3 separate regions of the Homo sapiens genome follow, and regions 1 and 2 are each linked to region 3. Evidence: fine-mapped expression QTL. A gene starts in region 3. Each other region holds a variant in brackets. All regions are shown on one strand. Distances are between the middles of the regions.

Region 1 (5,373 bases), 140 kb after region 3:
AAACAAATCAAAATTCCATCAAGATTATAATGAATGAATAAGCTGTGATATATTCATACAATGGAATACTATTCAGTAATTAGGATGAACTAATTATGGCTGCACACAATACAACACCATAAATCTTGCAAACATGATACTGAGAGAAAGAAGCCAGACACAAGAAATGCATACCACATGATGCCATTGTGTAACAAAGTTCAAATGAAGATAAACATAATCTATGATGTTGGAAGTGAGGACAGTGGTTGCCTTTGGAAATGAACACAGGGTACCAATAGTAAGGAGATTAAGAGGAGCATATGGGGTTTGGGATTGTTCTAACTCTTGGTCTGGGTTCTAATTTCACGATAAGTGCCTTTGTGATAATCCTTCCTGCTGTGCACTAACATAATATACTTTCTCAGTGTGTACTATTTTTCATTCAAGGTATTCCTAGGACGGAAAACAAGTCATTTACAGGTTTATGAAATTAAACATTCAAGGTTAGAAGCAGCTTCAAGCTCAGTCAGATCTTGTTACTAAGAAATCTTCATTAAATGTGCAAGTGTAATGCTGGCAGCAATGTTAAGACGCTGACCCAGGGTTTGGCCAAGTGCCTTAAGTTTATTCAGTTGGTTTCCCATCTTGGCCGTCCTTCATCACATCTTTACTTATTATATTCCGTGGGTAATCCCAACTCATCCTAGCCTGTGGTGTTAACTACTGCCTCTGTGTTTAAGCCTGTACACCAAGTATAAATTGAACAATTATAATAATTCCCTCAGTCCTGTCTAGTCAAGGGTGATGTTTTTGTTTCTATGGGAAATAATTTGTTGTATTTCACATAGAATTGCATAACAGATATTGTTTGGTTGATGCGTGGTCTCATGGATTGTAATTTGGTTACAATTAGTTAGCTATTAACTAATGATTACTGATCAATGAAATATACCACCTTCTCCCAGCATGGATTATAGCTATTCCTGCCATCCCTTAAGAATCATTCTTCTAAGCCAACTAATGCCCAAACCATCTTTCCAAGGATGTTTGTCTAGCAAACAGCCAGGCTGTGTGGAAATAGTATCTCTCTGGAGCAAGGGGCAGGCTTGTTTTCTGTGCAGTGTGATAAAGATGATGTCTCCTTTGGGGAAAAGGCAAGTAGGTTTACTTACAGGTCCCTTATAAAAGATGGGGGTTTCCTGAGCTTGGGGTTCTTTGGCTGTGATGTATGCACAACATCACTTGCTTGCCTCTTCATTCCCCTATGGAAATTGCGGGGTGAGGGGATTGAAACAAACACAGAGCTCATGCTGCCTGCTGTGCTGTGAGCAAAAAAAGTTGTCTATGACCTGGGAGTCTTGTATCTCCTGCCAGCATCCGTGAAAATGTGGCAGGCTAACCTGTTTGTCTGCAAGGAGAGTAAAATTTCAGACCTTTTGTCATTCTTGAAAGAGATATACTTGGCTTCATCTAGTGTTGCTACTATGTTTGCAATACAATCCCAAACCTAGATTCTGAGTTTAACAGTATCCTAGACAAGTACCAAGATATAATAGGCCTAAATTGCATAAGTTGGACAATGACCAAACAGCTCTCTTCATTCCCCCTCTGCCTAGGGTGTGGGCTTCACACTATTACCTCCCAAGTAGTCCAGGAGCCTCAGCTTCGATTTGGGGCAAAGAGTCTTGGCCTGTGTTTTTCTGCAGCAGAATAGTCCCTGGAGAGGAGGTTGTGCCAGTTCCCAAACACTGACCAGTGTAACTCAAAATGAAATACTCAATGGCTGATAAGTGATTTGTGTTGATGGTGCTCCCAAAATGGGTAGAATAATAACTCAGCACGGAGTTCTCTTCCATGCACTTCAAGAAATGTTCTTGATCAGCTTCCAACATTGAAGAATGAGGTGTCTCCATTTCCTCTTCCCTATAATCCTCATAGTCTCTGGCCCTGTTTTTTAAACAATCTTTCTCCTTAGGCTTTCATCTAGTCTCTTATACTGAGAAGAAGTGTTACTGTCCAACCATGCATCCAACTCACCACCCTTCGTTTTGGCTCTCATACAACAGACTCACTTCTTGGCCATGTGGCCTGGAGTAGCAGAGTCTGGATACACTGGGGTACATTTGAAAAGATTTAAAGAAAGTTTTTTCAACTTATTTTCCAGTCATATTTGTATTTCCAATCCAGCGTCTTCTTCCGACATTTGGAACCATCTATTCAGCTGTATGATGGACATCTTCACTTGGGTGCCCTCAGGAATCTAAAGCTCAAATGCAGGAGATGCAGCTCCCTGTGTTCACACTCAACACACTCCTCCCCACTTTGTGGACTCTAAACCAGTGATTGACATTCAGGCCTATTCAAAATAGATTGTGTGTCAGCTCTCACTGAAAGAGGGTGATTAGAAATGCTAA[T/C]GTCAAGTTCCCTTTGAATCTTCTGAGTGCAAAAGGGAACTAAACAACAAATGTAGTACTTGGCTTTCAGAACTTTGTCTTAATGAATGAAAATGAAAGACACACACAGTGAATATTTTTCCACTTGGGAGGATTTATGTGTATTTTATTTATCTCAAGTTGCAACTAACAATTTTGATGGTTCTTATTGTAACTCTCCTCAGTGACTATAGTATAAGACAACTCCAATTTTTAGAGGGGAAAAAAAGATTTGCAGTAAGAAACATTGTGTTCACTGCCTCTTACCTCTACTTGTGACTCATACTTAACAACATTAAAAGTAATGTATATTTGCAGGTTTCAGGCAAGGAATAGACTCTATTAGGAATTCCATCCCAAAAATATATTAAGAAATATTTGTACTTATTTGAGTTCTTTCTGTGGATTCTTATTTTGAATATAATTAACATAGTGCAAGCTGAGAGGCCTGTTTGGCATTACTAACACTGGCTGATGGGTATCGTCATTGGTTCTGATAAGATAATTGTTTTAATAAAAAATTGTTTTAAAAAATAAAAGTGCAAAAAAAGTAACTATTTTGCTAACAAAACGTTGTGAATTTTAAAATGTCATATTAAGGTGTGCTGGCCTCAATGGAAGAGTAATAAAACAGCACGAAGTTTAGGGATACATTAGTCAGAAACTCCTTTGACCTTGCCCTTCAGGAACAAACTCATGTCACAGGAAAAAAAAGAGCAAAACGAATTGAATAAAAGCCAAATAACTTAGTCAAATTTTGGTGTTTTTCCTCTTTCCTACTGCTAGAAAAACCACCCTTAAAATTTTGCTAAAATGTAATTAAATAACAGTTGATACCTCTAAGGGAGGAGACCACCCCTCATATTGGCTTATGCCCAATTTCTGCCTCCAAAGAAAGAAGAAGTAAAAACTAAAAGGCAGAAATGAAATCCACAGGCAGACAGCCTGGCGCCGTGCCCTGGGCCTGGTTAAAGATTGACCCCTGACCTAACTGGTTATGTTATCTATAGATTCCAGACATTTTATGGAAAAGCACTGTGAAAATCCCTGTCCTGTTCTGTTCCGTTGTGATTGCCGGTGCATGCAGCCCCCAGTCACATACCCCCTGCTTGCTCAGTTGATCACGACCGTCTCACACAGACCCCCTTAGAGTTATAAGCCCTTAAAGGAGACAGGAATTGCTCACTTGGGGAGCTCGGTTTTTGGAGACGTGAGTCTTGCCGAAGCTCCTGGCCGAATAAAGCCCTTCCTTCTTTAACTCGGTGTCTGAGGGGTTTTGTCTGCTGCTTGTCCTGCTACACCTCTACCTACACTGAGATTTTTTTGCTGCACAGACCTTCAAGCTTCAGAAGTTTACAACAGTATTGGAATAAAAACACAAAAGATATGCCTCTGATGTCATTCTCAACACCAGAGCACCGTCTATTACATTGCTCTCCTGTCTTGTGTCTTATTCCCCAGTATTAAATCCCTTCATTTTTCTCTATGTAATCACTGAAGTGGTCTTTCTAAATGTGGAATTTACTGTATCACTTCTCTACTTATAAACTGCTGTGGCTCTTGATTAGTCATAAGTTAAAGAGCAACTTCTAAGTATGTCATTCAAAGTCATTCACAAGCAAGGCCTAACCTATTTCCAGCCTCATCTCCTGACCCCACCTCCCCCAACACCTGGGCTTCACCATATCCCACAGTTATGCTTTAGTGCCCAGCCTTCCCTGAATCTCCACACCCCCCATGTCAGTTCCGTGGCCCTGTGCTCTCTGGGCCTGGGCTCTGACCTCTCTTCCTCAACTACAGACTATCTATCGCTGAAGATCCTCTAAGGTTCTGCTCAAATGTTACCTCTCAGCCGGGCAGTCCCTCTCACCCCCAAGGAAGAGTAAATTGCTCCATCTCTTAGCCTCCCTTGAAACATTGCATTTCTACTAGCGGGGTGTACACATCACATAACATTGTTGAAATGTGTGAGTTGTCCGTACTATGATTTGTCTATCTCCTGGTATCTCCTAGAAGGAATTTTTGTTTCTCGCTCGCAGGGTGTAAATTTGTTTTTATATAAAAGTTGTGACCAAGTATCTTAATAGCATTTATTGAATATTACCAGACAGAGTTATTCAATCATTGTTCTCTCATTTATTAGGTCTATAATTTGGGTAAATTTCTTTATTTTTCTGAGTATCATGCTTACTCATCTCTATAAATAGAAATGCCAAGATAAATGGGCAAATGGGTGAATCTAGTGGGCCTGGGACTTGAGCAGAAATGACACTTTATGACTTCCAAGGCTAGGTCATAAAAAGTCAGAGTTTCCTCTTTTTCCTGTCTCTGAGGACACATGCCTTGGAAGCCCTTAGGTGACATATAAAAGATCAGCTACCCTGAAGCATGCTAGAGAGACCACATGGGGAGGCCACATAAAGATAGCGATATCCAAGAAGCCCTAGCTACTATAACCTGCAGCGGTTTGAATTTTCCAAGTATAACCCACCAAAAATATGAATGAGTGAGCCCTTAAGTTATTTCAGTTCTAACTTTTGAGTAACCCTAGTCGACATGGAATAAAGCAAGAGTGAACAGTCTCTTTGGCAGAAGTTCTGCCAAATTGCAGATTCATGAGCAGAATGAACATTGTCATAGAGCACTAAGTGTTGTGATTTTTAATACAATCCTCCAAAATTATTATTGCATATGTGTTTTATAATTGAGAGCAATTAATATGCTTCTTTAATTTTGAAATTCTTAGTTTAAAATTATATGATACTGGTAGACAATTTCCAGAATTTTGGCATAATAACCTACATGTACCCTCTCCCTAGTGAAACAACCTAATTGGTGAAACTGAGAAAAGAAACCCAAACATTTTAAATCTTTGGAACTTGTTCTATGGGCATACAGCATAAAAAGAAACATTTATTTAAGAAAATCTACCAAATTTTGCTAAGAACAGTGAAATTTG
Region 2 (5,450 bases), 130 kb before region 3:
GCAGGCACCTCAGCCCTCTCCTCCACCTGCTCTCACCTTTAAAGTAATTCATTTGTATTAATAGCAGACTTCTGCGTTATTTTTAGGAGCTCTATGTCTTCCTTTTTTGTTTGTCTGAGATGGAGTCTTGCTCTGTCACCCAGGCTGGAGTGCAGTGGTGTGATCTCAGCTCACTGCAACCTCCGCCTCCTGGGTTAAAGCAATTCTCCTGCCTCAGCCTCCTGAGCGGCTGTGATTACAGGCGTGCGCCACCACGCCCGGCTAATTTTTGTATTTTTAGTAGAGACGAGGTTTCACCCTGTTGGCCAGGCTGGTCCCAAACTCCTGACCTCAGACAATCCAGCCCCTTCAGTCTCCCAAAGTGCTGGGATTAAAGGCATGAGCCAATGAGCCACTGTGCCTGGCCTGTTCCTGTTTTAAGTTCCCCAAGAAGATCCTCAAAAATATTTATAGGACATTGATGATTCTTCTGTGAACCATCTGCTCTTGGTATCTCAGGCTCGAAGTGTTTTCCTATGGATTTTAAAGCTCTGTTAAGCCCTATCTCAAAGATATATCTGTGTCATCACTGTGGCACATTTTTCTTTAGCTTTGTTTGTCATTTACCTTATAATGGCTTATTATTTTGTGTTTTTTTTTTCCATACGGAATGTAAAATTTTTCATGTACACAAATCTGGCAGGGTAAAATCTCCCCCTCATAATTGTTCTTTCAATTTTTTTTCTCAGTTAATCTCCCCTTCTAGAGATCAAGAGTGGCTTCTAAAACTCTTTCATTAGACAAAGTTTTGCTTTCTCTGTCAGGAATTATTTTATGTCACAATTTCCCTAAACCCTGGAGCCACCAGTACAAATGTAAGTACAAACAAGCAAAACTCAAACCCAAACCATTAAAACAAAACAAAATAAAAACAAAAACAAAACCTCTGCAATACTCCTAAGAGGCATAACTTTCACTAGAATTTTAACCACTCAAGAAGGCAGGTCTTCTGATAGACTCTCTGATTTCGGTGTATTAAATACCTGCTTGGCACAAGCACTAAACAGTGGCATGCCCACGGCTTTGTGCCCAGCAGACAACTGAATACCCACGGCTGTGGCTGCTGGATGAGTGGTGAGGGCTGAGCAGCAGGTGTTTCTCCTGTGAGGTGGCCTGGCCACCCAGATCTGCCCTGTGCACTGAGCAGCCCCCATGGGTGGAGATGGCCACCACCTGCCCGCTCCTCGGTAGCAAGCCAGCCCCTCCCCTCGCCTGTGTGCCTGGACGGGCACAGGGTCGCCTCCTCCAAGCAAGGCAAACACATCCACCCAAAGACTCTCCAAGATGGGATACTCCAGGGCTCAGCAGGAGACAGAGCGGGACAAGGATGCCTGACCAGTTAGAGGGCCCACAGAGGAGGACTCACGGGGACACTTCTTCACGCAGGTGGCACCAAAGCTGTATTTGCCCTCGGGGTTCACATCCATCTGGTACGTGGTGGGGTTGTAGAGCATGAGTGGGGGGCAGGTGTCCTTGCACGTGGCTTCGTCTCGGAATTTGCGGCAGACCTATGGAGGAGAGAGGACACGCTGGGCAAGTGAGGTAAGTACACTCAGCGCCACACACGGAGGAAGCGCAGCACGGTGTTGACTCCCGTCAGAAAGCCCAAGTTACTGTCTTTGCAGCCTAGTGTTCCACTAGTGTGGGAAAACCCAGCTGGCGCCCTCTGCAGAGTCAGAAAGACCCTTCTCTAAAAAGTCCATTTTTTTCTTAGGTGCACTGTCCCACCTATCATAATTTATGGATTATGATAAAAATACGTCTGTTTACTAACGTATAGATGATGGAGTTCACACATTATAGCGGTGACTATGGAATGAAATTATGTTTAATTTCCCTTATAAAGGACATTGGGCTTCCCTTATAAAGTACAATTGAGGGTATATTTTATAATGTATTGCTGAATGGCAGAAAGCCTTGCTAGAACAATGCCGTGTAAAGGAGCCAGACCCAATACAGCGAGGGCTTTTCCTAGGACCAACCCCACGCACAGTCTTCTCCCTGGGGCTCACATTAGAAACAGCTCAGGCCAACCAAGTCACAATTCCTGGGTCTGGGTCCAAACTCTGGAATTTAGGAATCTTCTCTGAAACCACAGAGTGCTCTGGATTTAGTCTTAGGAAGGGCTTCGTCACACCAGCTCCCACTCCAGGAGTCACATCCACCAGCCTTGGCGTCTCCAGGACTTCCAAGACGCTTCTGACCTGTACCCTCCAGTGCTGCTCAGAGCCCGCTGGGGCAGCAAGGCTTCTGCTGGCACTTTCTGGAGCAATGGGGCGACAGTGAGTACTTCAGGACCCCTTGAGGGCAGGGTGCAGCTCAGGAGGTGCCTGAGCAGTGGTGGAGGAGCCGAGGGATCCGTGTCAGGAGGCCCTAACCCAGCCCCAGCCAGCAAGACCTGTGTGGCTCTCCATGGGTCTCTTAGGGACCTCACAGTGTCAAGTCTCTAGAGGTATAGCCGAAGTCAAACAATAAAGAGAGTGTGCTGCTGGCAACAAGGCACATTCATGACAAATACTTGCATGTAGTATTTAGTGCTTGTTCTGTGCCCAGGTCCTAATGACGGACATCACAGGCATCTCATCATTTAAGCATTCAACTGGGAGAGACTTTGTTATGCATCATTGTCAGGTAAGGAAATGGAGGCATGGTAGTCCCATCATTTTCCCAAGGTCTCAGTGAGTGGTGGAGGCAGGATACTAAAGATACTTTGTCACCAGGCAGAGGGCAATATCCTGTCTGTTATGACAAATGCTAATTGACAGCTCCCCCACAGGAAGTCTTCTGTCCTGGTGTGGGTGGGGCGGGTGCAGCCCCAGCCTGCTCCAGGGAGGCTGCTGGAGGGGCATCTTACCAGGCAGTCGCTCTCCCGGGGGCCTGTGCAGCCTGCAGCACACTGGTTGTGGCAGCAGTCACTGGGGGACTTGCCACGGCAGCGCCCGGAGCACTGCTGGGCACAGATGATTTTGGTCACTGAAAAAGAGCAAAGGTTCCCTGTGAGCTGAAGAGTGAGGGTAGGATCATTTCCCAGGGA[T/C]GTCGCAGAGCACTTGCAGACTTTTTCATGAAAAAGTGAAGACACATTTGCTTCCAACGAAACCACATTCAAACTAAGTCAAACCATGCCCTTTTCTGATTGCCTCTTTTTTCTCCTGATTTATTTTTAATCACTTAAGAGAACTCATGAGATCAAGTCTAGACTTTGAGACCTGCTAAATAATTAGATGCATCTTGGGCAATGCAGAAAGCACATACAAAGAACAAAAATACCTGCTGGGAAGTAGTGTTTAGAAGGGCCTAACAGCCCCCCCACAATTCAGCTTAAGGACATAGTGTCCGTTTTTGAGCTCATGTCCCCAGGTTCCTTGGCCACTGAGAGGCTGAGCCAGACAACCATACCTAGGAGAATGGCCCTCTCCATCGTAAAGCAGGGTCCACATGGAAAAGTCCCCATGAGAACCCGTGCTCAGGCTTCTGTGTAGGTGGGTACCAAAGAAAGCCAGGGAGGGAGAGGAAACAAGAAGTCTGGTGACTGCTGTCAACAGGAGCAAGTCTTCCATTCCTGGGAAAGTGTGCTGTGTTCAGAGGACAGGGCTGGGGTACTTGCTGATGTTCACTTATTGTTGTTGTTGTTGTTGTTGTTGTTTTGAGACGGAGTCTCGCTCTGTCGCCCAGGCTGGAATGCAGTGGCACAATCTCGGCTCACTGCAAGCTCCGCCTCCCAGGTTCATGCCATTCTCCTGCCTCAGCCTCCCGAGTAGCTGGGACTACAGGCGCCCGCCACCACGCCCGGCTAATTTTTTGTATTTTTAGTAGAGACGAGGTTTCACTGTGTTAACCAGAATGGCTCGATCTCCTGACCTCGTGATCCGACCGCCTCCGCCTCCCAAAGTGCTGGGATTATAGGGGTGAGCCACCGCGCCCAGCCCCTGCTGATGTTCACTTATTTGTGATAGGCTGAAGCTCCCAAAATAGCCCACCCTGGATTAACTGCATGCGGTGAGATTTGCAAGACTGTCCTTCACCTACTGGTTCACATCTGACCCTGTAATAAAGTAACTCTTTGGAGTCTTCAGAGGGAAAACAAATCCAATCACCTAAGCAAGTGAAGGAAGAGAGGGGCGGTCACACATGGGTCTGAGGCTGTTCACTGACTTACGTTTCTGGCAGTTCTCCTCTCCTGCACCCCAGCAGCTCCCATTGGGACAGCTTGGATCACACTTTTGGCCTGAAATGTAAAAGTAATAGATGCATATCTCAGTGAAATGATGAGAAACTGATGACGCCCTTTCCCGGGCCTGAGTTAAGCACATTCAATAAATGAAGACAATCTTTTCAACTTATTCTCTGATTGTTTGGCTGGCTGGTTTGTAGAATCACTTGAGACCCCGATAAGAAAAGAAGATGAACCATGAACTGCTTTTATTTACATGTCAGCTGCGGAAACTGAGGCAGAGAGTAATTACTGACATGGGCCACATAAGCAAGAATTTTTCATGAATTTGAGGTTCCTTGTTTACAATCTGCTTAGGCTTGGAGCATTCCCTGGCATCTCCTGCCACAGCTAGAGTGTCTCGTCTGGCTGAGCCTTTGGCATGGACCCACTACTTCCTTGCTGTGTCCAGTCTTGAGTGACTGCATGTGTCAGCCGTTCTGGGATTGTTAAGTCATAGCCTGTAAATAAAACCTTCTAGACTCCAAACCAGAGAGAAGCACAGAATGGTGCACAGAGGGTGAAATGTTAACAGTGCAGATCACTTTCATGACTGTGTAAAACCTTAGCTATCTGGTCAATTTTTGCAGTTTTTATAATTGGCCGATTACAAATTATAGCTGCAAAGGTTTTCCTGTCATCTGTCGTGTTTTCTTTTTATCAGTATTGAGAAGTCTGAAGGTCGAAGTGCTATATCTATATAGAAAGAGTAGGTTAACCACCAAATTTGTTAAAGAGTCCAGTCATGCAGATATCTTTTACTGTGAAGACATAGTAAACTAGAGGTGTTCATGGGTCCCGAGGTCCCCTGCAGTCAGGAAGAATTTAGATTTCAAACAGAAAAGCTGACGATTGATCTCCCATGTGACTGTGAAGCCAGAATACCACCAAGGCAAAGGGCGCTAATTGCCGCGCTGGTGCTCCTTAGAGACATGAAGGCCGGGGAGGCTGGCATCACGACAGTGACCGCGGGGGATGGACGTTGTGAGGAGGTAGGCAGAGAGACTGCAACAGAGGTCTAGAGAAAGCAAGGTCCTACGCAGGCGTGCTAAAAGCAGCTAGATCTGTAGCGTGCAATCCCATTCTTTCAACTTTTTACCCTGTACTCACATATAATTTTCAAATTTCTATTATAAGCTTGTAATCATTGTATAAAATAAAAATATTTAAAAGAAAAATGCATCTTTTTCTAACGGGAAAC
Region 3 (5,000 bases):
GTGCTCTGAGGGTTTAATTTAAAATAAAGAGAAGAGTCTCTTCGGCAGAGACAGGGCTGACACCTGACTAACAGGACCGGCAGTCAGCAGTCTCCGGAGCAGGCCCGCGTCTCCCGGGCACCCCAGGCAGGCAGGACGGGCCTGCAGGCTCAGCAGAGAAGAAACCTTTCCACCAGTTCCTTCAATGAAAAGCGGAATCCTTTATTATTGGAATCACACTCTACCTTTTCCCTCTTTCCTATATTTGGCAATATTGTAACAATTCCAGATGTCCTCAAAGAGCTCTTAGCATTGGCAAGTAACATCTCCGGAGACTTTAACAATCCTTCTTCCGTCTAGTGATCCCCAAATCTGGCTGCCCAACAGATCACATGAAGAGCATTAAAAAAAATCCCAAGTCCAGGTCTTGCCCCATGCCAATTAAATCAGAATGTCTGGGGGCGGGAGCCAGACACTGGTTTTTGTTTTGATTTTTTTTTTTTTAATCCCAGGTAATTCCAATGTGCAGCAAGGTCTGGGAACCACTGTTCTATGCCTTGCCCCTCCCCCAACGACCGCGCTGGGCACCAAACCCCAACTCCCCAAGCCAATGACATCAACAGCAAGTACGGGCCTGGCTCTTGGAACCCGCGCAGCTCAAGGTTGGAATTGTGCAATTAAACCTTCCAAGGCATGTTTCCCCTGTCAAGTGGGTTTATGGTCGGTAGTCACGAAGCCAGACTCGCTCATGTTCTGTCTGCACACTTGGCACACTTGAACCAGGGACAGCAATCCGGTGTGTGTGTGTGTGTGTGTGTGTGTGTGTGTGTAAGACAGGTTTAATATTTTGGTTGGCTCAAATTCTTCAAACAGCAAAAAGAGACATCCAAGAAAGAAAGTCTCCGGGTTTTGAGGAGAAGTTTGCTGTGAGCCCCATTTTGAAACACCATGGTGTTGGCCAGGATGAGCTCTGCTTCCGGGGCTTCCGCTCAAGAGTCCCGCGATCCCCCCCTGCAGTGGCCGGACAGCCGCGTCCCGCTCCACCGCGAAGCCCAGGCGCGACCGAAGGGCTGCAGGTGGAGCAGACCCGGACGTCTCCGCGAGGCGGCCATCGAAGGAGAGCCTGGGGCTTTCGGCGCGGGCGCCCAGGAGGGAGCTGGGGTCCCCGGGAGGTGGGGGGCACTCTTGGATAGGCAAGACGAGGGCGCACCGGGCGAGGCGAGCGGCCGGGGTCTGCGCCCAAGGGGCGGGTCGGACCCCACCTGCCTTTTGCCAACGAGGAAACTAACCGCCGCCAGCACCACCCCTCCCCGGGAGCCGCAGGTGGTGGTAGACGAGTTCTCCCAGCTCCCAGGTCGAGGCTGCGACTCCACACTGGGGAACGAGGATCGCGGGGACCTGGAGAGGGGCCGGGGCCAGGCTGGCGGGCGCCGGCTTCAGTTTGAGACCTGCGCGGAGGGCGGAGGCGGGGAGGTCCTCTCAGAAAGCCGCCTGTCCCGCGGGGTCCGAGGGGAGGCTGTATTTTTGGGTTCCTTCCTCAGCTTCCCTAAACAGTGCAGTCTCGGCGGGTGGGCAGCGCCCGCCCCTCGGGTGCGCGCCAGGACCCCGTCGCGCCCTGGGAAGACAGCGCGGGGCGCACGTGCGGGACCCCGGCCCCAGGCGCCCACCAGCACCCGGCTTTCGCCCACTGACGCCGATCCTGCGCAGCTGGGCGGGGAAAGTGAGGGAAGAAAGTTGGGAGCGGTTCGGGGCGCCGGAGGTCCCGGCGGCCGTTCCCCGCCTGGCCTGCAGCCCGGTGTCCCACGCGTCTCCTCCTCCGCCCGCCCCAGACTCTCCCGGCCGAAGAACGAAACGTCCCGTTCCTCCCGCGGTCCCGGTCGGCGGCGCAGCTGATCTCAAGGAAACAGGAAAGGACGGGCGGGGGCGCGGGCGCCGAGCCGGTGCGCCGGTGCGCGGTTGGGCGGGCTGCGGGGTCCGGGGCGCGATCCGGGGGCGGCGCGGGAGCCGGCGAGACACGCCCTTACCTTTCTTTTCCTCCAGAGCCCGACTCGCCGGGCAGAGCGCAGCCAGCAGCGCCAGGAGCGCTGCCCCGGCCGTCCCGGAGGGTCGCATCGCTGCTCCCCGAAGAGCTCGCTCCGGCTCTCCCGATCAATACTGGACGGAGTCAGGGGGCCGTGCGCGGTGGTTGTGGCGTTGGCGGCGAGGCGGGGACTCGGGCGGACGCCGACGAGGTGGCCTGTCGTCCGGTCTGGGCGGCGGCGGCCGCCGGGGCTAGCTCGGGACTCCGGCCGCCTCGGCCGCGTCGGGCGCTCACACCGTGCGGGGGGCGGAGGCTGCTGCGGCCGCGCTGCGCCGGGGGCTGCCCGGACGTCTAGCTCGCGCGGGCCGAGGCGCGGGGAGGCAGGGCGGGAGGAGGAGGGACCAGGCGGCGGAGGAGGGATCGGGAGGAGCAGAGGAGGAGGAGAATGCGAGGAGGAGGGAGGAGAACCAGCAGCGGGGACCCAAGGCCAGCGGCCGCCGGAGGCGGTGGACAGCGGTGGCCCCCGCGGGACCTAGTCTCCGGCGGGAGTGGGGCGGCGCATGGGAGGGGAGCGGGTGCCCTGAGGAGTTAATTTCCGAGAGGGGCGTTCCCAGCACTGCCCCTCTGGACCCGGTCCCCGCGGACTTGCAGGCCCAGCCTATGTCCAGGTCGAGCCAAATCTGTGCCAGGGTCCCCTTCCCCCTTTCCCTTCTTTTGTTTTACAAAGCAAACTTGTACCAGCTTTAGACAGACTGGCCGAGCCTTAGAGCCAGCGTCGGATAATGGCACCGACGGGGAAACTGCTCCTTTATTCGGGTCCCCACCTCCCCTGCAGCACTACGGGACCCTCTCGGGGATCAGAGGCTGGCCTGGCAGCTGAGGAGGTCGCCGTGCCCGCGCGGCAGGGGTGCCAGGCGTCCGAGGTGGTGCTCTAAAGTCCGAGGGTCCTTCAGATCTTGTCAAGCACCCTCGAAATCATCTGAAATGAGGGCACCCAACTCCGGGTGCAGAGACAGGCCTCCTTAATGTTTATTGCAACCAGCCATGGGTACTTTGAAGCCAATGTGTGAAGCACATTACTTCGCAAAAGTGAAGCTCTTGGAATAAAGGCTTGACACAAACAGCCGTGGAGGTGCTTTTAGAGAGGCTAAGTGTCCCACTGCCCCTGTAGCTCCCGCAGGAGAAATGCCAGGGAAACTCGCGGAAGCTTTGGCCAAAAGAAACTGAGCTTTTTTGGGCTGCAGGAACTTGAGCTATATTCCTTTGGCAAGTCCACCCCATCCCCACTGTTCCTTCTCCTGCAGTAAAAATGTCCTCTAGGTCCATGTTACAGCCAGACCCCTCCTCTCTTCACGAGATTCACTAGGACCTTCAGGCCTGGTTCAACAACCCTGATCTCTCGGCTCTGTCAAAAATCACAATCCTGAAGTAAGTGAAGCTACAGACCTGCCCTTTGCTGTCTCTGAAGGGGAGCAACCTTACATCTTTCCTCCTCATCCAGCAAAATGTTTGTGCCTGGGTCTCGCACCCTGCAGCCTGAACGGTGGGGTTTTTCACCAGGGCAAGCGCAGACAGACACAGGTCTGCTCACTGCCCGCACAACCTGGAACTTCCCTGTGAATTAGGAGAAGTAATCTGTTCCTTTGTTTTAACAAATCAGTACAGCCACTGTGCGTTGAAGTCATGCCCTGAATGCAGAGGCCATGAAGGCTCTGCAGGCATGTGTGTGCTTCCTGCACACCTGGGCTGAGAGCAGTCCGTAGAAACACAGAAAACAAAACTAGAGAAAGGCAAATGGGAAGCACAACAGTGGAACATAAAATGAAGACAGGAGTGAGTCTTACAATAAAAGACCTGAATACAATAAAGTCCTGTGCATTCACTTAACAAGGGCTGCAAATTTGGTTTTAAACTATATTTTCTGTCAAGGGAATGTGACCTGTGTGTACAAGTCACAACACAAATCAATTTAAGCTACAACTGATTTGTAAGACTGTACAGGAATTTCTTTGAGTGCCCAAAAAGACAGCATGTAAGAACATCAGTTCTCACTACGTTAGGACTATATGAGACAACAGCCTTCATAGTACGGCTTGTATATTCTTCAATGTGATCTGATAGCATCACAAGAAACAGAGCTTTTTGTAAAGAATTACTAGACACACACATAGCACAATACTGGGATGGATTCCAGGGAACAGAGAAGAATGGGTTTGCTGAACATCTTCATGGGACATCTATGTAAAGTTTGAGTTTCTCCTTTGAGCTTTTGATACAAAAGCTGACATTCACGTTGATTTTGTAGTCCTTGGCTAGTACCTGGAGTGTGCTGATAACTGTGTTACTTGGTAAGTAAAAAACTGTATGGCCGAGCAGGCACTAATGAAGTCCTCTTAAGAGAGATAAGTAGCCTGGCATAGTTAGGGCCCTGCACAGTTAGGGCTCTAGCTCACAGCCTCTGTGGAGGGTGGTCCTAGACCATGGCCCGGACAGAGGCTGGGTGTGTGTGCCACCACCACAGGAATGACAATAGTGGCCCAGTTGCTGTGTTAAGCATTGGTCAGACTAAGCTTATCTGATAACCTGTGAGCTGGTTAATACTTGTATCTGCCTTTTATAGCAATGTGATGCTGTGGCCGGGAGAAGTGACCAGGATACCAAGGTATACTTGCTAGTATGAGAGGCCAACTTTGAATCCAAGGCAGAGCCGTGTTTTACCCCTCTTGTCCAGCAACGCTTCAAAACCTGAGACAAATGGTGATGTCAGGACCTAAAATTCTATTTCATAATGTCTTGGAAATTTGTTAGGGTGAGTAATACCAAAATTTCTGCTTGGCCAAAAAAATTATAGATAAAGCCTTCATGTATGCTATATTAGCAAGTATGTACTAAGACTCTAGTATTTCCCTTAATAAATCTCATAAGCGTCTGTCAATTTTAATAACACAGATGGTTCCATCCCTTTGCCAGCTGTACATGAGAAACTTTTTTCCTCTGATGA

Direction of the effects. Alleles are on the strand shown, and positions count from the first base shown. SD is a standard deviation of normalised expression in the study named.
In carriers of allele C in region 1, the expression in prefrontal cortex of the gene that starts at base 2,352 in region 3 tends to be lower than with T alone (moderate effect, 0.54 SD a copy in CommonMind).
For the expression in sun-exposed skin of the gene that starts at base 2,352 in region 3, T is the low allele of the variant in region 2 and C is the other (small effect, 0.19 SD a copy in GTEx).

What was found. PIP is the estimated chance that this variant, and not a neighbour inherited with it, causes the effect.
Region 1: its variant is the best candidate, but not a certain one, in a credible set for the expression of EGFR in prefrontal cortex (CommonMind, PIP 0.56).
Region 2: its variant is the best candidate, but not a certain one, in a credible set for the expression of EGFR in sun-exposed skin (GTEx, PIP 0.71).

What each region holds. Positions count from the first base shown.
Region 1 is chr7:54,878,587-54,883,959 of GRCh38, reverse strand. No RefSeq gene overlaps it. Among named protein-coding and RNA genes, the nearest start is that of SEC61G-DT, 120 kb to the right of the region's middle. The variant T/C (reference allele first, on the strand shown) is at 2,397.
Region 2 is chr7:55,150,108-55,155,557 of GRCh38, reverse strand. It overlaps EGFR (epidermal growth factor receptor), which reads right to left. Exons shown (of 28, transcript NM_005228.5): 5 at 4,196-4,264; 6 at 2,894-3,012; 7 at 1,406-1,547. Among named protein-coding and RNA genes, the nearest start is that of EGFR-AS1, 36 kb to the left of the region's middle. RefSeq lists an enhancer at 2,645-3,453. The variant T/C (reference allele first, on the strand shown) is at 3,074.
Region 3 is chr7:55,016,369-55,021,368 of GRCh38, reverse strand. It overlaps EGFR (epidermal growth factor receptor), which reads right to left and starts at 2,352. Exons shown (of 28, transcript NM_005228.5): 1 at 2,004-2,352. The coding sequence starts at 2,091. It overlaps LOC105375284 (a long non-coding RNA gene), which reads left to right and starts at 2,447. Exons shown (of 4, transcript XR_007060329.1): 1 at 2,447-4,808. RefSeq lists an enhancer at 678-1,352.